Homo sapiens: one gene and its partners. The protein of the gene in region 1 interacts with the protein of each later gene in a pairwise test. Each region holds a gene or a part of one and is shown in the gene's direction. Other genes may lie near its edges.

Evidence for each region.
Region 2: the proteins of CDHR3 (region 1) and PARVG interact in binary tests that used the Homo sapiens proteins (3 or more experiments, as listed by UniProt).
Region 3: the proteins of CDHR3 (region 1) and ARHGAP25 interact in binary tests that used the Homo sapiens proteins (3 or more experiments, as listed by UniProt).
Region 4: the proteins of CDHR3 (region 1) and NEIL2 interact in binary tests that used the Homo sapiens proteins (3 or more experiments, as listed by UniProt).

The regions. Positions count from the first base shown.
Region 1 is NC_000007.14:106,022,237-106,029,271, forward strand, and holds part of CDHR3 (cadherin-related family member 3 isoform 1 precursor), read left to right. Parts: coding exon 1-212; intron 213-2,144; coding exon 2,145-2,326; intron 2,327-4,445; coding exon 4,446-4,459; intron 4,460-6,314; coding exon 6,315-6,346; intron 6,347-7,035. UniProt on the Homo sapiens protein: Cadherins are calcium-dependent cell adhesion proteins.
Region 2 is NC_000022.11:44,204,905-44,208,984, forward strand, and holds the end of PARVG (gamma-parvin), read left to right. Parts: intron 1-852; coding exon 853-925; intron 926-1,412; coding exon 1,413-1,522; 3' UTR 1,523-3,565; downstream 3,566-4,080. UniProt on the Homo sapiens protein: Plays a role with ILK in promoting the cell adhesion and spreading of leukocytes.
Region 3 is NC_000002.12:68,800,787-68,807,821, forward strand, and holds part of ARHGAP25 (rho GTPase-activating protein 25), read left to right. Parts: intron 1-5,942; exon of another isoform or gene 5,943-6,153; intron 6,154-6,486; coding exon 6,487-6,694; intron 6,695-7,035. UniProt on the Homo sapiens protein: GTPase activator for the Rho-type GTPases by converting them to an inactive GDP-bound state.
Region 4 is NC_000008.11:11,779,700-11,786,734, forward strand, and holds part of NEIL2 (endonuclease 8-like 2), read left to right. Parts: coding exon 1-251; exon of another isoform or gene 252-823; intron 824-3,503; coding exon 3,504-3,700; intron 3,701-6,263; coding exon 6,264-6,574; 3' UTR 6,575-7,035. UniProt on the Homo sapiens protein: Involved in base excision repair of DNA damaged by oxidation or by mutagenic agents. Has DNA glycosylase activity towards 5-hydroxyuracil and other oxidized derivatives of cytosine with a preference for mismatched double-stranded DNA (DNA bubbles).

The DNA.
Region 1 (7,035 bases):
GTTCCAATGTCACACGCCTGCTGCTTACATCTCGCTTTGACTATGCTGGTGGGTTTGATAAGATCTGGGACTACAAGCTACTTGTCTACGTAACTGATGACAACTTGATGTCTGACAGGAAGAAAGCGGAGGCTCTTGTTGAGACAGGAACAGTGACACTGAGTATTAAAGTCATTCCCCACCCAACCACTATCATCACCACGACCCCCAGGGTAAGGGCTTTAGGACCTGGAATCCCCAGGCACATTCCCTTGTGAGTTATGTTGATGGACTTCTTTCCCCGGCCTGGAGGTATGTGGGGTGGACTGAAGAGTTGAGGTATTAGGATGTTGCCAAAAATGGCAACCATGGGCTGGACTGGAGTAGCTGCAGGGTGGCAAAAATCTGGTGAGACCTCAGACTCATAACCGCTAACTCAACCACTAACATTTCCTGTTCTGGTAGAGAAGAGTGTGTTGTTTGTGCAGAGACTTGTGAGAGATCAGACCTCAACCATCTGTGTGGCTTGTGGCACAGGAGCTGATTTCCATGGGCATGCTGCCAGTTGCTACCTTCACAACCCCTCTCTGCTTGTTCAGAAGAGTCTTTGCAAGTCAATATCCATGAAATTAGGTTGCTTGCTTACTGCTGGGTGCTCTTTCCCACATCTTTTGAAGAATCACCAGGTACCAATCTGTACCCTACACCCCACCTCCGCTCCAAAAAAATTCATCCAATCTACAAATATCGATTTAATGCCTATAGTGTGCCAGTCACTTTAGCAAACAAGCCAAAAATGATCCCTGCTCTCAGAAAGCTTATTGTATAGGCGAGTGATTCTCTAAGTGCGGTCCCTAGACCATCAGAATCAGCACCACCTGGAAACTGGTTGGAAATGCAAATTCTCAGGCCCAGCCTAGATTATTAAAGTTATAGGTTACCCAACCATGATCATCACCATGACCTCCAGGGAAGGATGCTGGAACCTGGAATCCCCAACTCTATCCCCTAACCTAATGAATCCGAAGCTCTGGAGGTGGGGTCCAGTGAGCTGTGTTTTCAATCAGCCTTTCAGGGAATTCTAATGTGCATTAAAGTCTGAGAGCCACTGATCTAGAGGGGGAGATAGATTACAAACAAGTATTCAAATTGACAAAGTAAATACAGACTGTGGGAAAGGGTAGGAAGAAAATGACCAGGTGCTATCACAGAATTGGCCTGGAGAAGGAAGGGAGAGCCTTGAATCTGACAACAGGATTATCTTCCCTGCCCCTTGGAGGAACTGGCTTGCATCTATGCTGACTCATCTGTCCCCTTTCTTCCTCCTCCTCTTCCTCCTCCTCCTCCTCCTCCTAGTAGAAGCTGCACCCCTGGTCAGCAGCCTGATACCTGCAGCATGCCAGAAGGAAGATAATCAGAACCTTAGAGAACCCACTATGGAGGTGGCCAGCTTCTTCTCAGAGTCTTGCCAGGAGCTGGTTCATGCTTCTCTCTCCCATGCTCGAGTCAATATGACCCCAGTGAATGGAGGCATATGGCAACCCTAGGACTTTCCTTGTGGGAGGAGCTGGTAGGCTCTCCTGAGTGAGGAGTTCCCACCTTTCTTGGGCTCAGAGCATGACCTGATTGTGACATCTCCAATCCTGAAACCTCCGTAACTTGTTTGTTATCTGTCTCCAGCTCTAGGAAGCAGATGCTGAACTTGAGGCTTTGCTGTGATATCAGCCCACTGCTCTGGCAGTGGCAGCTTGTAGTTGAGAAAACACTGAAAAGCCTACAAGGCATTTAAAAAAACAACTTTCGTGGCTTATGCTGTCTCGGTGAGAGACAATGGCTATATTCGTCCCTGGGTTATGCCCAGATATGGCAGAAAAAAAGCCAATGGAGTTTTTTTTAGCTTTGGGGAAGGGGAAGACAGAGAATAAAATAAGGCCTAGAGTTGTTTTTCAGTTCCCTAAAATTTCTGGGTTTTGATCTAATGGATGTCTGCAAAGACTATAAATAAGGTGATGGGTTGAAGCAGCAAGAACTGTGAGCACACAGATGTCCAACTTATAGAGCAATAACAATAACAAAGAGTGGAATAAACACTCAACACGAGAGAGTGCTGAATGTCAAAATCACTACCACCCTCTACTCACCCTCCCTGCTCTCTGTTGTTCAAGCCCAGGGTCACCTATCAGGTCCTGAGGAAAAACGTTTACTCTCCATCTGCATGGTACGTGCCGTTTGTCATCACTTTGGGCTCCATATTGCTTCTGGGTCTCCTCGTGTACCTGGTCGTCCTATTGGCCAAAGCCATCCACAGACACTGCCCCTGCAAGACTGGGAAGAACAAGGAACCTCTGTAAGTTGCCAGTGGGCTGGGCCCTCTTCCCCACCTCCTTTAGGACACTGTTTCTGGTGACATCAGGAGAAGGAAAAATGGAGAATCAGGATTTCTCTACAAGGCAGGTTGCCTGGAGTGAAGGCAGGAAAAGGAGATACGGGGGAAGGAATCCCAGCTCCCCTCGGTCCTGGTGCACTTTCTTTGTCACCTGCTAGGCCAGGAAACCATCCTTTTGGCTTTCCCTGGCAACCTACTCTGTCCTTGAGGCTCTTAATAAGACTGGGGCATCAACCTTCTGATGACCTTGCCCTGGATAAAATCTTCAGCAAAGCCCTGTTGTAAATAGCGATAGAATATGCCGTGCTCTTATTTGTAGAATATTTAAAGGATAGTATGGAATTAAGGCAAGCACACAAAACCAATAAGGGAATTAAGCTTTTGTCTCCAGTGACTCAGCCGGGTTTTTGTGTGACCAAATAATTCTTGGTGTTTTGCTTGTGGTCTCAGTCTCTCACTCTTAAGGGTTGTAAACGCAGGCCTGTTTTCTCTTTTTCCAGTTTTCAGCTGCCCACTAATATGCCTCTTATTGTGCCAATCTGTGATGTGTCTTTTACTGGCTAAAGTGAGGTAGTAGAGTGACGTGAAGAGAGCACCAAAGAATCACAAACTTCTCCCAGAGCCAAGCTCCTTGATTCTCAGTAGCTCTTACAACTTACAGCTTAGATGGTTCTGAGCCTGAGTTTTGGAGTTAGATGGGCCTGAGCTCAAGTCTTAGCTCTACCATTTTCTTGGAATATGGCTTTGAGCAAGTGACCACCTCTGTGAACTTGAATTTTCTTATTTGTAAAATTAATCAACTAAATGAACAAATGTAAACAAGGCACTTAACTGTATTCCTGATATAGAGTAAATGCTTAGTACACTACCCAGCCAGTTTTTACAAATCTTGTTTCATTATTCTTCACAGATGAGTCCCAATGAGTTCAGGATTCTAGATTCCAAGTTTAGCTCTATGCCCAAGTATCTTGAGGTGTTGGAACCTCTGAGTTCTAGGATCTCTCAATGGCAAAAAGAGGGGGTGATAAGACATGTGTGCCTTTTACGGGTATTTTAAATATTAAATATTAACTGTCAAATAAGAAAATCTATGGATGAAAGACTGTATAAAAGTACAAGGCATTAGAATAAAGATGTGCGTTGCATTTTGCCATATTTATTGCGGAAGTTTGTTGCTATTGGCAACCTTGACTTCAAGGTAAGAAATCCTCGAGCATCTGCTGAAATTAAAAAAGGCATTTTTGTTTGAACTCTATTCACAAATTGATTTTTTTAAAAAAAAACAGCTCTAAAAGAGTAATTGCTTGTAAGGATGGTGGTGTACTGTACTGGGATTTGGATAGAAGTTCTTGAAGAAACAAATCCAATAGACACTGCAACTCTCATGTAATTTATGGCTAAACGTTAAATATGCACCTTGAACCTGGTTCTTTTAACTTATGTTGTAAATATTAATTGTTTTCAACATGGTTGACTTAAAAAAGAAAAACTAGCTAGAAAACCAGACTCAGACTCAACCTCTCTGGAAATTAGTTATACCATATGACAGCCAACTTTGTCAAATAGCAAAGAAGAAAATTAGGGTTACAGAGCTATAGAATCCAAGGTGATCATGGGAAATCTCGTAGGGTCTGAGTCCAGCTCTTCATGTGACAGGAAACCAAAATGTAACTGCCAGCTCTCAAACCTCCCTGTTGTGAGCCAAGCCTTCTGCTCTGCTGGCTCTTGGGGAGAAAGGGATAGGGCAAGAAGACTCGCTGGACAGTCTGACTAGGGCAGGCATGTCCTCACCAGGTTTTCTCATCAGAAACAATGTATTCCCTGAAGTTTATAAGGTGATACTTTTCAACTCATCAAATTCCCAGAACCTCCCTAGTCCAAAGCCAATAGTGATGAAGCTGCTTTGTTCGAAGCAGGCGTGGTGATCTAGTTTTCTTTCTGGCCCCTATCCCTGGCACCTCTTTCAGTCAACCCCTGTATCTCAAAGGGCATAGTTGCCCAAAGAACCCCATGGTGTCATGTGTGTGCCAGTGCAGCATACTTTCAAGTGAATTAATAGCCATTCTTTTTCCCCCCATAGGACAAAGAAAGGAGGTATGTACAGTACCTGTTTCCCTTGTCTGTTGTTTTTTGCTTGCTCTGTTGTGCTACGTAAAAAGGTTCCTACTCGGCAAAGAATCAGGCCGCGATCACATCTTGGAGCATTTTCAGCTGCATCTTCTGTGGCTGGAAGGAAGCGGAGGTCGGTTGCAGCTGGAGAATGGGAAGGGTGGGGGGACAGTGCCTTGGCCTGCCTGGATATCTCAATTTGGTCCTGCCTATGCCCTACCTAGAGCCCTCGCCAATCAGCTCAGCTGAACACCTAGGTCTGTCCCTTGCTGCATGGCACAGGAAGAAAGAACTCTCCGTGTGTTAAATGTAGACAGGACCTGCTTACTGCAGCCCATGGAGGGTGTCCTGAGGACAGCTAATGCTTTGTGCTGGACACAGGCCTCTTTTGAAAGAACAGATAAGGCTGGGCGCAGTGACTCACGCCTGTAATCCCAGCACTTTGAGAGGACGAGGTGGGTGGATCACAAGGTCAGGAGTTTGAGACCAGCCTGGCCAGCATGGTGAAACCCCCGTCTCTACTAAAAATACAAAAAATTAGCCGGGCATGGTGGCACGCACCTGTAGTCCCAGCTACTCGGGAGGCTGAGGCAGGAGAATTGCTTGAACCCAGCAGGTGGAGGTTGCTGTCAGCCAAGATCACGCCACTGCACTCCAGACTGGGCGACATAGTGAGACTCTGTCTCAAAAAAAAAAAAAAGAACAGATAATATTTGATTCCCAGATTCTAATGGATTTGATCATTTCCACAAATTATTTAGGTTAGACTAGTGAGAAGGGGGAGATGAGGGTGGTGAGATGGGCTGAGAGCTGACTGACTTCAGAGAAGTGGGTAAATTGGGAAGGTCCATCTGAGCAGCTCCAGGTCTGAGGAGGTGTCCTGGCTTGGCCTCAAGTAGACTCCAGAGTGTGGGGGAGACAGGACAAAGAATTGGACAGTGTTTTAATTAAAAAAAAAAAAAGTTTGCTTTAATCACTCCATCTACAGGCATGTGTCTGACATGCTTAAGGCATGTCTCAACAGGGTTAGAAATTTGATTATAGTGGTTATTGATCATATTGACAGAGATGATTTTAATAAATGAGATTTTCACAAACTGTCTCTAATCCCACTTTTTAAAAAGGGGATGGGGGCTGGGCATGGTGGCTCACACTTATAATCCCAGCACTCTGGGAGGCCAAGGCTAGAGGATCACTTGAGCCCAGAAGTTCGAGACCAGCTTGGGCAAGATAGTGAAACCCTGTCTGTAGAAAAAAAATTTTTAAATTAGCTGGGTGTGGTAGTGTACGCCTGTAGTCTTAGCTACTGGGGAGATAGCTGAGAGGATCACTTGAGCTCAAGAGGTCAAGGCTGCAGCGAGTTGTGACCGCACTCTAGCCTGGACGACAAGAGTGAGACCCTGTCTTAAAATAAAATAAAATAAAATAAAATAAAATAAAATAAAATAAAATAAAATAAAATAAAATAAAAGGGCTTGGGAATTAATGCACAAAACCCACACCTTATGAACAGAGGTATCCAATCCCATCTTTCTTTCTTATCTTAAAAGCCATGTAAAAGCCAGTTTTCTAGGTCCACTGATAATAAGCTAGAAAAAGAATAAAAAACAACTAAATTGTTCGTATGTTATTGTGTGTGTGTGTATACATATGTGTACGTATTTTTTTCTGAGAAGATGGAAAGTTGTCAAGAAACATATCTATAGACAGAACAATTCTTTGCTGTGTCTGCAAGACTGAGATCGAAGCCTATTTAGGGGAAATACCGTTGTGGAGGTGGAATTTTAAGGTCAATTTACCACCCAAGAAGCTTAACTTCTGCCTGTTCTGTTCTCTGCAGAAACGAAGACTGCAGAGAGAGACGTCGTGGTGGTGAGTATGGGCAGTGTGGGGCACCAGGCATAGACGCTGGGGGATAGGGGCTCCCGTCTCCCCCGAAGGCAGGCCTGCCACAGCCTTGTGGGCATGTTTATCATTCAGGGAGGTGCTTGTGTTTGGCTACTGGAACAGATTGCTGTGTGACGAGCTCCTGATAGAATTTGTTCCCTCCACTGAACATGCCTGCTGATATATTTGCAGAAGAACAGGATTTCATAAATATTGAGTAGTGGTGTTTATTATCTATACCAGCTCTCCACGAGAGTGAGTTGAGGGAGTGAAGCTTAAAGACCAAAACTAGTGCTTCAGCCTCCAGTGAGATTTAAATTTTCTTTCTTTCTTTCTTTCTTTCTTTCTTTCTTTCTTTCTTTCTTTCTTTCTTTCTTTCTTTCTTTCTTTCTTTCTTTTTAAGACACAGTTTCACTCTGTTGCTCAGGCTGGAGTGGAGTAGCACAATCTCGGCTCACTGCAACCTCTGCCTCCTAGACTCAAGCGATTCTCATGCCTCGGCCTCCCAAGTAGCTGGGATTACAGACACGTGCCACCACGCCTGGCTAATTTTTTGTATTATTAGTAGAGATGGGGTTTCACCATGTTGGCCAGGCTGGTCTTGAACTCCTGACCTCAAGTGATCCACCCACTGTGGCCTCCCAAAGTGCTGGGATTATAGGCATGAGCCACTG
Region 2 (4,080 bases), on another chromosome or scaffold:
GAAGCTAGAATGGAAAGGGAGGGGACCTACTGTGGGAGGGCCGGCAGGCTCCTGGGCTCTCACCATATCCTGTAGCAAGGCACAGGGGAACTGTGGTGAGCCCACTTTGCAGGGGAGCAAGGGGAGGCCCTGGGCAGGGACTAAGCTGAGCTCTGAATCACTGGGGGACTTGACTGATGCCCGGGCGCTCTCCACCCTAAAGGGAGCCATCTCTGAGACTGCACCCCAGGCAAGGGGTGGCGGAAAGGACAGCCACCTGGGTGGGGACCGCTCCAGTCTCTAGCCTGCTTTGCATGAGCATTGGAGCGGACAGACCTGGTTTGAGCGCTTTCTGTCTCGTGAGCTCCAGTGAGCCCCTTGGCTCCTCTGAGCCTTGATTTCCTCACTGTGCTTTGCCCTGGGAAACAGCTGTTCTCAAAGGTGCTCTGCCACCCCAGGCCCTTGCTCCTTTCCCTGGGTAGTTCTCCCTGCCTGGCGGGACTCACCACCAGGCTTCACCTCCACCAGGAAGCCTTCCCTGATCCCTATTGGGTATCCTCCTTGGCGATTGCCTTTTTCACGGGCAGTGGCCCCTGGACGCAAGCGTGTGCCCAGTGTGGTATAGCACCTGCTCAGAGTGGGGCCTGTGAGTGGCTGAGGAATGAGACATGGATTGCTTGTGTGACAGAGTGAGCTGTAGGGAGATGCTGGATGACCACGGATTGTGGTCGTGGTCAGGGATGCCCACCTTGGATGGGAGTTTAGGCTCATGATGGACATCACAGACAACAGGAAGGGCTTGGCACTTGGGACCCAAGGCCTGGCCTGGGGCTGCTGCTTGTGCCCACATCTGATAGGGCCTTGTCATCATAGCTGCACAACGTCACCCTGGCGCTGGAGCTGCTGAAGGACGAGGGCCTGCTCAGCTGCCCTGTCAGCCCTGAAGGTGAGTGCAAGGCAGATGCCCACACGGTGGCCAGCCCTGGGTGGCAGCCTTGTGCGAGAGCCACAGAACAGGGTGCAGGGCATTGGGGGATGAGCACGCATTGGCAGAGTCCTCTTGCCTGGCAGGGGTGGAGAATGGGCGCTTGCCAAGGTTTCTTGGGAGGGGGCACTGCAGCCCCAGGGGAAGAGGTTCTGGGGAGGGGGAGACCAAGGTCTCTGGGGACAGGTTGTCCAGAGAAGCCAGACCTTGAGGAGTTGCTGTGTTGGGGGCACCACAGGAGCATTCAGAGGAGGACTGGCCAGGAGGAGGAGGCAGTCACGCAGCAGGCGCGGGACCCAGGCCTGGAGTGACCAGCTGTCCTGGCTTCCAGGGATTCTCCTGGGATTAGCACTGAAATCCTGAATGCCAGGAAACCTTGACCACATCGGGACAGTCGGTCACTGCCACCCAGGCCTGACTGGCTGCCCTGCCCTCCTTTGGCCCGCAGATATCGTGAACAAGGATGCCAAGAGCACACTGAGGGTGCTCTATGGTCTGTTCTGCAAGCACACGCAGAAGGCACACAGGGACAGGACGCCCCATGGAGCCCCGAATTGACCCTCACTGCCTCCAAAGCCCAGAGCCTGCCTGTCAGCCCAGCTGGAGGGCCCGAGGCTGCAGGGTGTCCTCCCACAGTCCCGCTGTTTCCTGTGCATTCGTGACCCGCTTCCCTCCCACCCTGTCTCCTGTCTCCATCGTTGGATTATCTTTGAACCCCCTTGTGTGGATCATTTTGAGCCGCCTGGCCTTGCTCAGTTTATTTTAATAAAAGTATTTCTGGGAGGGATTCTGGGAACTTGACAGGGTCCTGAGGAGGGCCCTTAAACCTGCAGCCTCCCTCCCATGGGGTGAGTGTGTGTCACATCAGTCTCTCATCTCTGGGCCCAGGCTAGTGACCGCCCAGAGAGGTGGCATCACTCAGGGCTGGGGACTCTCAGGGACAGGGCCCACAGCCCCAGACCCCACCTTTTCCAGCCCAGCTCCCCACACCCACCTGCTTCTCACTCGGGAGGATGGGCCCCAGAGTCACCCTCCAGGGCAGGAGCCCGAATGGCTCCATAGCCATGCCCCCACCCACCGGGAGAAGTGGATTCAGTGACTGTCAAAGCAACCCGGGCTGTGTCCTGCAGCTGCCCTCGTGAGTTTTGCCCAAAAGTCACAAAGAAGCAATCTTCGTGGTTGATTAGTGGGTTCAGGTCATCTCCAGTCTGTCCTCGGGAGCTGTGGGTTCCCACTCGCTCCAGTGAGACTTGGCATTTTCTGCACATAAAGAAGAGTCGTGTGGGAGAATTGCACATAGTCAGTCCAGGGCATCCAGAGTGGGGCAGAGCTGATGGCTGATGGGAACCGGGGAGGAGGCTGGCGGGGAGGGGTGAGATTGGTGGGGAGGGCTGGGGCTGGCCGGGAGGGGTGGGACTGATGGGGAGGGGTGAGGCTGGCGGGGAGGGGTGAGGCTGGCGGGGAGGGGTGGGACTGGTGGGGAGGAGTGAGGCTAGTGGGCGGGTGAGGCTGGCGGGGAGGGGAGGGTTTGTGGGGACGGGTGAGGCTGGCGGGGAGGGGTGAGGCTGGTGGGGAGGGCTGGGGCCTGGTGGGGAGGAGTGGGACTTGTGGGGAGGAGTGGGACTTGTGGGGAGGGGTGAGGCTGGGGAGAAGGGCAACCACAGCCCCAGGCTGCTGCTCCTCCCTGGACCCTGAAGAGGCCTCTGGGTCTGGGGTTTTCACAGTTTGACAGCTGAGGCCTTGGGGAGGGGCTTTAGATGGGGGTTAGGGGCTAGGTCATCATTGACACCCACTGGGGGCGCCTAGGCAGATGTCCTTCGGGGGAGCAAGATGGGAGCCAGGGACGCAGTGCCAGGTCAGCCCTGGGAGCTGGTGTCTGGGTGTGAGAAGGCCTTGAGGGGTCTTCCCTTCACCTAGCCTCCCATCTGCCTGCCCTTCTCAGCTCCCAATTCACAGGGCAAACCCAAGCCCATAAGCGTGTTCCACGTGAGCACTCAGATGCACCCCTCTTCATGGATACCCACCCTACTTCCCGGCTGCCTCTGGGAAACGTGCATCCTCCCACACCAGGTACCTGGAGCCCAGCTCCTTCCACCTGCTCAGGTGCCCCCTCCATTGCGATGCCCCCTCCAGCACCTCAAATCCTCTCCTGGAGCTTCTGGGGACACAGGCTCAGCCTCTCTCAGCTGGCTTCATCCCAAAAGCCTGAAATCCAGCCCCACTTCCTGGGGCCTTTGAGTCCTCACTTGCTTGGGCCCCATCCGCTGCAGGCTGGCTCTGCCTGGCTGTTCCACGTCCTCACTCTTGTTCTATTTGACAGCAATTAAAAAAAAAGTGACTTATTTAATTACTGTAGCTTTATTGAAAAATAACTTCCCAGTTTGAAGTGTACAATTTGATGAGTTTTGACAAATGCATGCAGTCATATAACCACCACCATCGTTATCCAGACATGGGACATTCCCATCACCATGCAAGTTTCTGCATCTGTCTGCAGCCAGTTCCCTTCTCCCAGCCCCTGGCCCTGGGGACCACTGATCTGTTTTCTGTCACCATCATTTAGACTTGTCTAGAATTTCTTATAAACTGTATCCTATGGTATGTTGCTTTTTGTGTCTGATTTCTTTCACTTAGCATAATGCTATTGAGAGTATCTCCATTGTTTCTTGTATCAACAACTCATGTCCTTAGTACATTCAAAAATAAGTCCTCCAATTTTGTTCTTCATTTCAAAAATTATTTTGGTTTTTCTAGGTCTTTTTAATTCTTTTGGTTTCTACATAAAATTTAGAATCAGTTTGTCATTTTCTGCAAAAAAGCCTGCTGAAATTTTGACTGGAATTGTGTTCTTTAGATCAAACTGGGGAAAACTGACATCTTAAAAATATTGGGGAGCTAAGATCACTGATTTGAGAATATTTTTCTTTTATATAAATATTTAATGCTGGATTTTTTTTTCTAAGCACAGCTTTAGCTGCATCCCACAGATACTAATATGTTGTGTTTTCACCTTCATGAAGTTCAAAATATCTTCTAGTTTCAAATGTGACTTCCTCTTTCACTCATGGGTTATTTAGAAGTGTATAATTTCCAAATATTTTGGGATTTTTTTTCCA
Region 3 (7,035 bases), on another chromosome or scaffold:
TGTGAAAGTATCTGGGGTCAGTTCTCAGCATAAAATTAATGTCATTAATTACATTGGTTAATAGTTATAATTATCATATTACATATATTATAATTACATTATGGTAATTATATTACTTATAATTATTATAATAAATTCATGAAAATTTATACCTATTAAGATGGAAATGCTCTGCTAATGGCCAAAGGGGTGACAATTAGGACCCAGAGGTCAGACACTGGTATAACTCAGGACCAGGTCTTTGGAGTTCCAGGGATGTTTCTGATTCCAAACTCCTCATGTGATCTGAGATTAAGAGTGACAAAACCTGACTTAGCCAAGCTAAAAAAAAACAAAGATGATTTTTCTCTCATGTAAGAAGTGACACTGTTGGTCCTGATGTCTCCAGAGCATCCAGTGGTTGGTTCTTGTTGAGAGAATAGCTTTGACGGATTTCTAGGCTGCAGATGTCAAGTTCAAAGTCTTCATCATATGGGTGATATTTAAAGTGGTGAGACTCTGAGAAAGTGTGCAGATGAGGGAGGGAGGCCCTGGGACCCTCCAACATGTAGAGGACAGCAAGGACAGGAAGAATCCTCAGAGGAGGCTAAAAGCATCTGATGAGACACACGGAGAACCAAGAGGGACTGGTGTGCCAAAAGCCACATGAGAAAGTGTCCCAAGAAGAAGGAGGTGGCTTGCTGTATCACTTGCTGCTGATAGAGTAGTTAAGATGAAGACAGAGAATTTCATCTCAGATTTTAAAATGTAAAGGCCATTGGTCTCCTTGACAAGAATAGGTTTGGGGAAGTACTGAGTAGAGAAAAGGGGCAGAGAATGGGAGGAATGGGAGGCAGCAGGTAGTGACAGCTCTCTGAGGTCCATCACATACCAGGTTCTGAAAACAGATGCTGAGCCAGATGGACTGTCTGCCTTTGAGGGGTCCACAGTCCAGTGGAAGAGAGGGATGTTTAAGTGAATCATCATAAAATTACATGACAGTGATAACATCGAGGAACACACAGGGAGCTCTATGAGTAGAGGAAAGAGTGACCAGTTTTCTCTGAGAAGACATCCAAATTCAGAAGACTGGGTTTCCAGGTGGAGAGTAGGAGGAAGGGCATTCTCTTGAGAATTTTTTAAAAGCAAAAACCATTTTTCATTCTTCCTTTCATACTCTCTAACTATCAAAGAGCCTGGCCCACAGCAAATGCTCAGCCTACATTTGTTGAATGACTTTGTGAATTCTGGTGGAAGGAATTTGCAAGAAACAGAGTTGCAAAAGAAACCATTATAACGATATAGGCAGCAGCAGTGGGAATAGGGAGCTTGTTTAAAGCATATTTGGAATGTACCAACCTAGGCCGGGCGCGGTGGCTCATGCCTGTAATCCAGCACTTTGAGAGGCCAAGGTGGGCAGATCACGAGGTCAGGAGATCGAGACCTTCCTGGCTAACACGGAGAAACCCCGTCTCTACTAAAAATACAAAATATCATCCAGGTGTGGTGGCACGTGCCTGTAGTCCCAGCTACTCGGGAGGCTTAGGCAGGAGAATCTCTTGAACCCGGGAGAAGGAAGTTTCAGTGAGCCAAGATTGCGCCACTGCACCCTAGCCTGGATGACAAAGCAAGACTCCATCTCAAAAAAAAAAAAAAAAAAAAAAGAATGTGCCAACCTATTTGGGGAGAGTGAAGAGTGTTGCGGATAATTCTAATGCTCACAATTTTGCTAATTGGGTTAGTTAAGTGCAGGTACCTTGTATTAATGGCTTTGTATTTTCAGTGCCTAGGAGAGTACCTGGCACTTGATGATGGAATGAAGCTATTGCCTTTGAGGAAGGCTACAGGAGAAGCAGTGATTTAGGGATGGGATGATAGTGAGATTAGAGAAGATACTGGGAGAATTGCCATTAGACATTGAACTTATGGGAATAGAGGAGAAAGAGAGAGAGAGAGAGAGAGAGAGAAAAGATGGAAATAGATATGATATAACTACATATACAATGATAAAATAAAACACTTTTTTTATGAGTATAATACTAAAGAGAGAAAAGCAAATGTTGGTCATTTGCATGAGAGCTGAGGTGGGGGATTATTCTTTCATAAATTATATCTATCAATCCATATGTACACACACATATATCCATATATACACATATATCCATATATACACATATGTGTGTGTATATATATACACACACATATATACACATATATATACACACATATACATACATACATATATATATATATAGAGAGAGAGATCTGGACCAGATATGCAGATTAATAAGTTATAAGTTTATAGGTGATATCTAAATGTGTGGAATCATATGCACTTTCCTAAGGAGAATACTAGAGTGAGAAGAAAAGAAGCCTGAGTTGGAATCCCAGGAAATGATGCACCAAACGAGCAGGTGGAAGATGGAGCACAGTCAAAGACACTTGAAAGGAGTCATCAGTGACATGAGCATAGAACAGGAATGATTGGATTTATTGCAATGTAGGGAGAAAGTATTGAAGAGGAAGGAGAATTAACAACATCAGTCTTCAGAGAAGATCAGTAAGTAGGGTGTGGAATGAACATTAGGAGAGCACTAGAAATCTTAGTGAGCAGATTTAGTGAAGAAGTGCAGGCTAATGAAACCAGATTGTGATGGGTTGAGAGGCTGAGTAGTGAGTGATAAGTGAGGAAGTGGGGCAGACATCTCTCTAGAAGTAGACATTTTTATTACAAGTATATGGTAAAGAGAAGGAAGGCAAATGTTGGTCATTTGCATGAGAACTGAGGTGGGAGATTATTCTTTCATAAATGGCAAAGACTTAGACCCACGTGGGATCTTTCAATTGAAAGAGAAAATTTCAACATACAAAGAGAAACAGTAAGTACTGGAAGAGATGGAAGGAATGGAACCCACAGTTCAAGAAGGCATCATCCTAGATGAAAGGTAGGGCCCTTTTCTTCCTCTGGGAGAAGACAGGAACACAGAGGAGAAAGGATGGGAAAGGCAGGGACTGGAGATGAGGGAGTTCACTCGTAACCCTCCATTTGATAATGGAAGGAAAGAGGAGCCAAGATCACCTGTTGAGACAGAGAAGGGAGGGAATGGGTGGGGAGCTCAACAGGAGTGGCAAAAATTTGGAACCAGTGTCTTGCAGAGATTGGAAGGATAAATTTCCACAATATGGTTGTGCATGGTCTTTTGTAGTTCTCAGTGGCCTGATGAAGACACGCAAAGGGTAGTAGGAAGCAGCAGGGCGGGGATGTTGAAGAAAAAAGTATGGGTCAGATTAATATTGAAAGGGCTGCATTTGAGGCATGAGAGAAATAGAGGATGAAGGCAGGACAAGGCTGATAGACTGGGATGAGGAGAAAAGCTAGAGAACTAGACATATATTAAGGTGCAAGAAGGAGCTTGGCCCCAAATCATCTGCAAGGTGGAGCATCTCCTATAAGACCTCAGAAATGGAGCTTGAATTTGAAAGCTTTGACTTCTCTGTGCACATCCTTACATTGTGTTTGTGCTATCTTTCCCCATCAAGTCCAGTGGACCTCTGGAGCCTGAGTTTCAACTGTTCCAAGAGACATCTGCCTCTCTCATTGAAGGGCCCCTCTCTGGACCTCTCAAAAGAGAATTTTCCTGATGCTATCTGGTCTGTTTTAAGTCGGAATATTTCAATCATGTCCTATCAATTTGGTGAAAAGATCTGTCCAGCTCCTTTTACAGACAAATAGAAACCTAATTCCATATGGTTATTGAAATTTTCTAATTGTTTCTCACCATGTTTTGTGTGACCCCTCAAAGGCAGACAGTCCATCTGTTATGTTATTTTCATAACTTGTTGGCAAACTCATTAAAAGCAGGAACAAGGTCTTCCATGTCCCTTGTCTGTACAACCCATTCCATGGAACCTGGTGCTGGCACATGGCAGGGCACTCAATGCATGCTAGTGGGAAGCTGAATTCATATATCAAGGAGATTCCTATTAGTGTTTAAACTAAAGAAATGCCGAATAACCATTAGTCATGTGAAATACTTGCTTAAAGACAAATTGATTCATTAAATCCTTCAGCAAAATTTGTTGACTGTCTACCTTTTGCCAGGGGTTACACTAGACATTGGGGATGAAAACAGCCTTTCCTCCTATTCTCAGTAGCAGGGAGCTTACAATCATGCAGATGACACAGGTACATACAAATCATGATCACAGAGTGCGGGAAGGATTGGGATATTCAAGAAACAATACGGTGCACAGAGTAGGATGTAGTCCCTCCATCTGGATGTCAGGAAGGCATGGCAGATATGATGATATTTGAGAGGGGCCAAGGAGGAGAAAAAGAATTTTGTCCTCTTTGTCCTCCTGGTGCAGCCAGGGAAGGGGGAGAGCAGACTGGACAGGGAGGAGACTGTTCAAGGACATGGAGACTGCAGAGCATTACGTTTTGGAAACGTCAGTGTGAGTTGCTTCTTGGGGCATGGCAGGACATCAGGCCAGGAAAGCAGGTGGGTGCCAAGCCTTGAGGAATGCCAGCCTTGATTCTCAAACTTTAGCCACAGAAGTATCTAATCACAGTCTCACCGCAATGCAATAAGTGAAACGAACAACAGCCAAGCAGATTTGGTGGTAGTGGGGAATACAGAGGCCACCTATTCAGCTCCTTCTAGATTCCACACTCTCACCTCCCAACACCTGATGTGATGAAAGAGGAGTCCCTGATGAACTGCCAGGGCTTTAAATGTCTATTTGAAAACCATCACTGTGGCAGTTGGGAGAGAAGCAGATGAGTACTGAAAACCAAGAGAAAGGCGCTCAAGCAGAATGATGCTTTAGAAAGGCAAGCAGCAGGAGGGTTTCGAACATGATAGAGAGAAGAGACTGTAGCGGTTACAGGTGAGAGAGGAGGCTGGCCTACGCTGGGTAGTGGGTAGGAGCGGAAAAGAACATGAGGGTCAAGAGCCTGGTACAGCTCTATACAGGTGGAATCCACAGGAACTCGAGGTGGGATGGAGGGGACCAACGTGAGAGAGAGAATCATGGGGAGAGTCAAGTGACTTTGCAAACGGATGTCCTAGGGATTGAAGTGCTGGGTGCAGCAGAGCCCTGATTATGGCAGAGGGAAAGTCACGCAGGACAGGACAGAAGCCACGGCCTGTCTTCTGAACCTCCAGGGTATGGAAGCCTGGTGGGAGAATGGATAGGCAGTGGTTGTCCTGATTTGTAAATTTGTCTTCTCACACTGCCGGTGCGGGGAAACTGTGGAGCAAAGTTTCTCCACGCAGACAGAGCTGGGGTGGAGCTGGCCCACACTTGCTTTGCTGGAGGCAGGGTAATTTGGGAAAATATTTTTGGAAAGCAATTTGCATGCCATCAAGTTATAAAAATGTTCAAACCTCTTGACCCAGTAATTCTACACTTGGGAATTTGTCCTAAGGAAATAGTTCAAAAGAATGAAACGCTTTTGTTCATGCATCCAAATGTTAATTAATTAGAAATTATGCATTGTACTGCATACATTCCAGGATCTCTGCCAGGTGAATGAACGTGTTTGCTGTGGCAATGTTTATAATTAGGACATAGTAAACAACCTAAATTATTTTAAATGCCACAGTGGTTTAGTGAGATGAAACATCTATGTGATAGACTACAGTAGTCCCTCTTTATCCTTGGGGGGATACATTTCAAGACCGCAGTGGATGCCTGAGATCTCAGGTAGTACTGAACCCTATACACATTATGTCTTTTCAGTCTTATAACTGAGACAACTACTAAGTATAACTGAGACAACTACTACGCGACTCCTGGGCAAGTAGTGTATATAACGTGGATACACTGGACAAAGGGATGACTCACATCTTAGGCTGGACCGAGCGGGACCGCGAGAGATTTCATCATGCTACTCAGAATGACATGCAATTTAAAACTTATGAACTGTTTGTTTCTGGAATTTTGCATTTAATATTTTCAGACTGCAGTTGACCGTGGATAAGGGAGGATGCCATACTGTGTTATGCTTTACTACTCTGTGACGCCAGTGGAACTCAAAACGGCCTGCTTGCTGCCGTGGTTAAGGCATATTGTTGGGAGTTCACTGCCTAGGCCTGAATCCCAACTGTGTCATGCTCTGAGCTGCCTGACTTTGGCAAGTGTCTAAGGCTCAGTGTCTTTAACAGTAAGGTGCGTGTGACATTAATACCATCTCATGGGGTTGCTGTCAAGGTTAAAGGACAAAAAGTGTGCAATTCCTAGCAAAAGAATTCAGTAAAAGCCAACCATTATTTTAAATATGTAAGAAATGTGGGTCAATATAAAAAGACTGATAAAGACTGCCTCAAATTTACAGGCCCCTATTTATAGCTTCAGGAAATATTCTGAGTGATTTATCTCCCATATTTTGTCTAGTATCATTGCAATAAAACCTGTGAAGACACAGGTGACACAGAAAGTCAAGAAATAGTTCATCCAAGGAAGCACAGAATGACGGGCAGGTTCTGTTTGCTCTCTCCTCAGCAGTGTTTGGCCAGCGCTTGGATGAGACTGTGGCCTATGAACAGAAATTCGGCCCCCATCTGGTGCCCATCCTGGTGGAGAAATGTGCAGAGTTCATCCTGGAGCACGGCCGGAATGAAGAGGGCATCTTCCGTCTGCCTGGGCAGGACAACCTGGTGAAGCAGCTGAGAGACGCTTTTGATGCTGGGGAGCGGCCCTCCTTTGACAGGTACATTGCCCCACTGCAGTGTCCCACCTCTGCCCTCCCCTCTGCTTGGCTTGGCTGGGAGGGCCTCTCCATTCCAGTTGAGCTATGGGACTTGCATAGAGACTTCTAAGAGCCCTGGCTTACAACAGAAAGAGCCTTTGTTTCGCCCATGATTGGGAATTTGGGAGACGGGAGCACAGTTAGGAGAGTGTGCAGATAGTTTATGTGACAGATGATGTGAACCAGAACTGGAACCCTGCTGGGCAGATTCAGGTGATGTTTAAGGCACAGGAGAAGGTGATGTGCAGAGGAGGGGAGAAAGATGGGACGTTGCCTGAGGCTCACCCTTCAGGACAGATGAG
Region 4 (7,035 bases), on another chromosome or scaffold:
GAAGGGGCTGCGGACCCAAAGCAGGTCGGGGAGCCCAGCGGGCAGAAGACCCTTGATGGATCCTCACGGTCTGCAGAGCTCGTCCCCCAGGGCGAGGATGATTCTGAGTATTTGGAGAGAGACGCCCCTGCAGGAGATGCTGGGAGGTGGCTGCGTGTCAGCTTTGGTTTGTTTGGCAGCGTTTGGGTGAACGATTTCTCCAGAGCCAAGAAAGCCAACAAGAGGGGGGACTGGAGGGACCCTTCCCCGAGGTAATGGTGTGGCCATCTGATTTTCGTGGGCTCTGATAGTCATAGGGCCCTGCTTGGTGGGGTTTGGGACTTCAGCAGTGGGGACATACTGAGGACGTCCAGTCTGCCCCCCAGGGCCCTGCTGTCTTGGGGAGAGAGGCCACCTCTGTATCTACCTGTGATAGGAAGTAGACTGTGGTCTGCATGCAGGAGAGGGTTGTGCACCAAGAGGTGGCTGGGAGAAGGGGAGAATTTTCCCAGCAAATGTGGCACTTGAGGGGGGACTGTCCCTGAAGAACATTTTATTGCCTGACTCCTGACTAGTGTGCTTTGAATTTAGGGAGAAGATTTTCCCAGTTTTATTTTAAGTATATTGTTTGTGTGTTTATTTTTTATTGAGATATAATTAACATTCAGTAGAATGCAGATCTTAAGTATTCAGCTTGATGAGTTTTTTTGCTTTGTTTTGAGACGGAGTCTTGCTCTGTTGGCCCAGGCTGGAGTGCAGTGGCACGATCTCGCCTCACTGCAACCTCTGCCTCCCAGGTTCAACCAATTCTCCTGCCTTAGCCTCGGAGGAGCTGGGACTACAGGTGCGTGCCACCACACCGGCTAACTTTTGTATTTTTAATAGAGACGGGGTTTCACCATGTTGGACAGGCTGGCTGGTCTGGAACTCCTGGCCTCAAGCGATCGCCTACCTCCGCCTCCCAAAGTGCTGGGATTACAGGCGTGAGCCACCATGCTTGGCCCCAGTTTTTATAATCTATGAATGTTGAGATCAACATTTTATGCATAAGACTCTATCTAGGTTTAGGATATGTCCTCAGTGTCAATTCCCAGAGGAGTAATTGCTGGTCAGAGGGAATGCATATTCTTAGGGCTGTACATTTTTCTGGCCTTAGGAAAGTGCTAGCTGAGCTGAAATCTCATGAATGTTAGGTCGTTTGTGTACTTCTTATCAATGTAATGAAGCTTTTGCACAGAAAGTCTGTTTGTTTTTGTGACATGTGTTGCCAGTATTGTTTCAAGTCTGTCCTCTGTCCTTTGATTGTGCTTATGATGTCTCTTGGCATTTGGGATTTTAAATTTTTATATCATCAACGGTGGGTATTTTTCTTGGTTGCTTGTAGGTTTCCCCTTTTGCTAAAAAAAGGCCCCTTCTGCCCCCAGAGAAAGTCACATGCCTTCTATTTTCTGAAGTTTTATAACTTGTAAAAATGTTTAGAAGTGTAGTCTTTATTTGTGTGGCCTGACGTAGGTACCATAGGATGCTATGGGCTGTAAAAATAACTCGGAGTAGCTTCTGTGGTCTGGAGATTTTGGGCTCACATGACTGGAAGTTCAGAAGGAGGGTGGGCTTTGGGGCTGCCGTTCCAAGGTTCTGGCTTCCTGTTTTTGTGATTCTCCTGGCTTTGCACTTTCCACGCATTGGTTTTCTCCTTAGACCAGCAGCAAGAGGCTACTGCAGCTCCAGGATTTTATTCACACCAAAAAATCCAGAAGAAGAGCAGATCATTTTTAGAAGTTCAGATGAGGAAACTTTCCTTAGAACCCCCAGCAAACCTGTCATCATCAGGAGCCTGCCCTTTGCTGAGTCCTGGATTAGTCACCAGCTGGAGGCATTGAAATGTGCTCCCCGAAGGAGGCTCACCCCTAGGTTTTCAGATATAGTGCCGTAGAGTGAATGTGTATCATGCCATTATTTTTAAATCTCTTTTTACCTGGTTAGGTCTCTTTTCTCATGTACCTGTTTTATGTTTACTTTGCTTTGTCTCTTTTTTCTTTAATAGGCTGGCCTGAGTTTATCTACTTTGTTGGTCTTTGAAATAAATACTATTAGCTTGCCAGGTATAATACTGACTCCTGTCTGTAATCCCAGCACTTTGGGAGGCTGAGACAGGAGGATCACTTGAGCCCAGGAGTAAGAGACTAGCCTGGGCAACATAGTGAAGACCCTGTTTGTACAAAAAAATAAAATAAAATTAACCGGGTGTGGGGGTGCATACCTGTAGTCCCAGTTACTTGGGAGGCTGAAGTGGGAGGGTAGTTTGAGCCAGGGAGGTTGAGACTGCAGTGAGCTGTGATTGTGCCACTATACTCCAGCCTGGGCAACAGAGCAAGACCCTATTTCCAAATAAATAAATAAATAAAATTAGCTTTATATATCCTTTCTATATGGAAAGGGTATATGGAGTATTGAAAATATTAGGTTGGGTGTGGTGGCTCACACCTGTAATCCCAGCACTTTACGAGGCCGAGGCAGGTGGATCACCTGACGTCAGGAGTTCGAGACCAGCCTGGCCAACATGATGAAACCCCCATCTCTACTAAAAGTACAAAAAGTTAGCCAGGTGTGGTGGTATGCACCTGTAATCCCAGCTACTCGGGAGGCTGAGGCAGGAGAATCGCTTGAACCTGGGAGGAAGAGATTGCAGTGAGCCAAGATAGTGCCACTGCACTCCCGCTTGGGTGACAAGAATGAAACTCCATCTCAAAAAAAACACATTATAAGTCAAAAAAGCATTTAATATGCCTAGCCTACCAAACATCTGGGCTTAGCCTAACCTACCTTATATGTGCTCAGAACAATTACATTAGCCTACAGTTGGGCAAAATCATCTAACACAAAGCTTGTTCTATAAAATGTTGAATATCTCACGTAATTTATTGAATGCTGTACTGAAAATGAAGGTTTTATAGGTACTCAAAGTATGGCTTTTACTGAGTGTGCATTGATTTTGTACCATTATAAAATCAAAAATTAAAAGTGAACCATTGTAAGTCAGGGATGTCTGTATGTGTGTATGATCCAGCCACAGAGTGTGCTCTGACTACGTTGTGGTAACGATGTGGGGATGTGTGTATGTGTGTATGATCCAGCCACAGAGTGTGCTTGGACTATATTGTAACGATGTGGGGATGTGTGTATGTGTGTATGATCCAGCCACAGAGTGTGCTCTATGTTGTGGTAACGATGTGGGGATGTGTGTATGTGTGTATGATCCAGCCACAGAGTGTCCTCTGACTATGTTGTGGTAATGATGTGGGGATGTGTGTATGTGTGCATGATCCAGCCACAGAGTGTGCTCTGACTATACTGTGGTAACGATGTGGGGATGTCTGTATGTGTGTATGATCCAGCCACAGAGTGTGCTCTATGTTGTGGTAACGATGTGGGGATGTGTGTATGTGTGTATGACCCAGCCACAGGGTGTGCTCTGACTATACTGTGGTAACGATGTGTACATATGACCTGTTCTTTCTTCCCAGGTTGGTCCTGCACTTTGGTGGTGGTGGCTTCCTGGCATTTTATAATTGTCAGTTGTCTTGGAGCTCTTCCCCAGTGGTCACACCCACCTGTGACATCCTGTCTGAGAAGTTCCATCGAGGACAAGCCTTAGAAGCTCTAGGCCAGGCTCAGCCTGTCTGCTATACACTGCTGGACCAGAGATACTTCTCAGGGCTAGGTATGACTCATGGGAAAGGGGTGAGTCCACAGAGTTGCTTCATGGAAAAGTCGGTCCTGTGGGAGTCAGAAGACCTGAGGGCCACCCTAGTTGTGCCAGTGCTGTTGGTTTTGAGGTGCCACTTGCTCAATCTCCTTTCTTTTACTTCCCTTGTTTTTAGACTGAGGGCATTAGATCAGGCAGTTTTTAACTTGTCTCTCTGCTTCAGAATCCACACCCTAACTGTGTTATCAGTTGTGAGCCCTCTGCCAGCAGCGTTGGAGCATCACCTCCTAAAGGGTGGGGTCATGTCTCCGGCACCTCTGTACCCTCCACTGCACAGTGCAGCGCCTGCACGTAGGAGGTGCCTGACCTGTGTCTGTAGGAACTGAAGTCGTGCAGGCTGCTAACAGAGCAGTGAGCGCGTGTTCTAAGGGATGCTGCTCTTGGGTGGATGGAGCTTCCTGCCCTGGCCAGGGCACAGAGATGACTCAGTCTACACTGGGTTCTTATGCGACGCGAGTGAAGAAGCTGTTTCCCTCTCTCTATTGCAGTGGCGTGAGCAGTGAAACTGTGAGCATTTCAGGATAGGGAGAAGTGCTGAACAATTTCAAAAATACATATAACAGCTAATTAGCGGGACTATGACAGCGTGGCGTTCTTATTACTCACAGTAGGGGAATAATTGTGCCCAAAATTGGTTGCTGAAGCAATCAGGCAGGTTGGTGGTGACAGAGTCATCTCCATATCCAACATGTGGCCTTGCTGCCTGCTCACCACCCTTCACGAGGGTCGGAGGAGGCCAGGTGGTACAGCAGGCACTTGCCTTGCATTTTCATGTTAGGACCATGGGAGTCCCTGTGCACTCAGGAGCGAAGAGCCGTCGGAAGTGGCTTTTTGGGTATATATGGCAAGAGCTAACAGTAACAGTAGTAATTAATAACGGCCAGTGTTTTCCAAGCAGCTCTGATGTGCCAGGCACATGTTCTTGTCCTTACTGCTGTCCTGTAGGATGGTTATAGTGCTTTTCCCTTCCTTCAGATGAGGAAACTGAAGCAGAGAACACATCGCTAGTAAATGGTGCAGCTGAGATGTGAATCCAGGTGTTTTGTCAATGAATTCTGGAGAGACTGATGTGTGTAATGAGGAGTGTGACTATGAGGCTCTTGGAAACAGCAGGAATTTCCTTCACCCACTCACTCCAAACACACAGACACTCACTTGAGCTCTGTCACGCTCACCACCTCTCCTTAAGGAGATCATTGTATAATGGCCCAGCAAGCATGGACTCAGTCCACTGTGGGTTACTAAAGATTGCAATGAATGCCTGGTGGAGCTGAAAGAGTATGGTTGGAACATTCCCAAGAGAGTTACTGATTCTGGAAGGAGGGATCGAGGCTGGCTTCACAGAGAATGAGGCAGGAGTAGAAAAATAATAAGATAACAGCTCCCGAAACACTTTCTACATAACAAGCATTATGCTTGGTATTTCATTTATTTTATTTTTTGACACAGGGTCTCTCTCTGTCACCCAGGCCAGAGTGCAGTGGCACAATCACAACCCACTGCAGCCTCAACCTCTGTGGCTCAAGCGATCCTCCCACCTTAGCCTCCTGAGTAGGTGAGACTACAGGTGCATGACATCACGCCTCACTAATTTTTAAAATTTTTGTAGAGACAAGAAGCTCTCACTGTGTTGCCCAGGCTGGTCTTGAACTTGTGGGCTTAAATGATCCTCCTGCCTCTGCCTCCCAAAGTGCTGGGATTACAGGCGTGTGCCACTGTGCCTAGCTATGCTTGACATTTTGTTTTTAATTTAAAAAAAAATTTTTTTTGAGACAGGGTCTTGCCATGTTGCCCAGGCTGGAGTGCAGTGGCACAATCTCAGATTACTGCAAGCCCCACCTCCCAGGTTTAAGCTAGTCTCCTACCTCAGCCACCTGAGTAGCTGCGATTACAGGCAGGTGCCACCATGCCTGGCTAATTTTTGTATTTTTGGTAGAGATGGGGTTTCACCATGTTGTCCAGGCTGATCTTGAACTCCTGGCCTCAAGTGATTCACCCGCCTCTGCCTCCTAAAGTGCTGGGATTACAGGAATGCGCCAGGCCAACATTTTAAATAATAACAACAGTTAATACTTATTGAGTACTCTACATACCAGCCACTGTGCTCAGCGTCTTTTGGTGAATTCTCATTTAATGCTCACAAAAACCAGGTAAGCCATCCCTGCCTTACAGATAAGGAAACTGCAGCTAATTGAGGCTGAGGAGCTTGTCAGGGTCACGTGGGTAGGATCTGCTTGAGCTGCGATTCAAGTGCAGGCAGTCAGATGCCCGATCCGTTTTTGATAGCCTGTTTGCCATGACGGGCCATGCATGAGTTTCATTTCATCTTCACAGCAACCTTAAAGGTAGGAATTGTCAACTCCATTTTACAGACAGAGAAATGGAGTCAGAGATCGCAGACCCGTCTAGGGTCCCCCAGGACATGGAAGAGCTGATTTCTGCCTTGTTAACTTTGTGGGTGGTTTCATCATGCCATGTGTCCTTTGTCCTTCCCTTACCTTCCCCCGCTTTATTTCAGGGAACATCATTAAGAATGAAGCCTTGTACAGAGCTGGGATCCATCCCCTTTCTCTCGGTTCAGTCCTGAGTGCCTCGCGTCGGGAGGTCCTGGTGGATCACGTGGTGGAGTTCAGTACAGCCTGGCTGCAGGGCAAGTTCCAAGGCAGACCGCAGCACACACAGGTCTACCAGAAAGAACAGTGCCCTGCTGGCCACCAGGTCATGAAGGAGGCGTTTGGGCCCGAAGATGGGTTACAGAGGCTCACCTGGTGGTGCCCGCAGTGCCAGCCCCAGTTGTCAGAGGAGCCAGAGCAGTGCCAGTTCTCCTAAGGAGCTGGTGGTGCTCCTCACGGAACCTTGCCGCTTGGGGAACCTGACGTCTAAGTGTCCAGAAAGGAGGATGTGGGCAGGGACGGGGTACAGAGGATAGTGTGGGTCAGAGGTGCCAGTAGTATAATATTCGTCTCCCTGGAGTTATGTTGAAGGCAGAGTTTTCATAGGGTTAGATTTTTTTTATCCTTTTCTAGTTCAGTTAATTCATCCTGTTGAATTGCACCATCGTGAAAGATGGGAAAAATCGTGATGATGGGTAAGGGGAAAACTTCCCGGAAGGCAATGGGGCAAGGAAAAAGAAAGCCTATGGGAAATGGCTGTGCTCCCAACATAGCTTTGCAGATGATGTGGGTTTTTTTTTTTTTTTTGGTTGTTTGTTTTGAGAGAGAGTCTTGCTCTGTCTCCCTGGCTAGGGTGTGGTGGTGTGATCTTGGCTCACGGCAGCCTTGCCCTCCCTG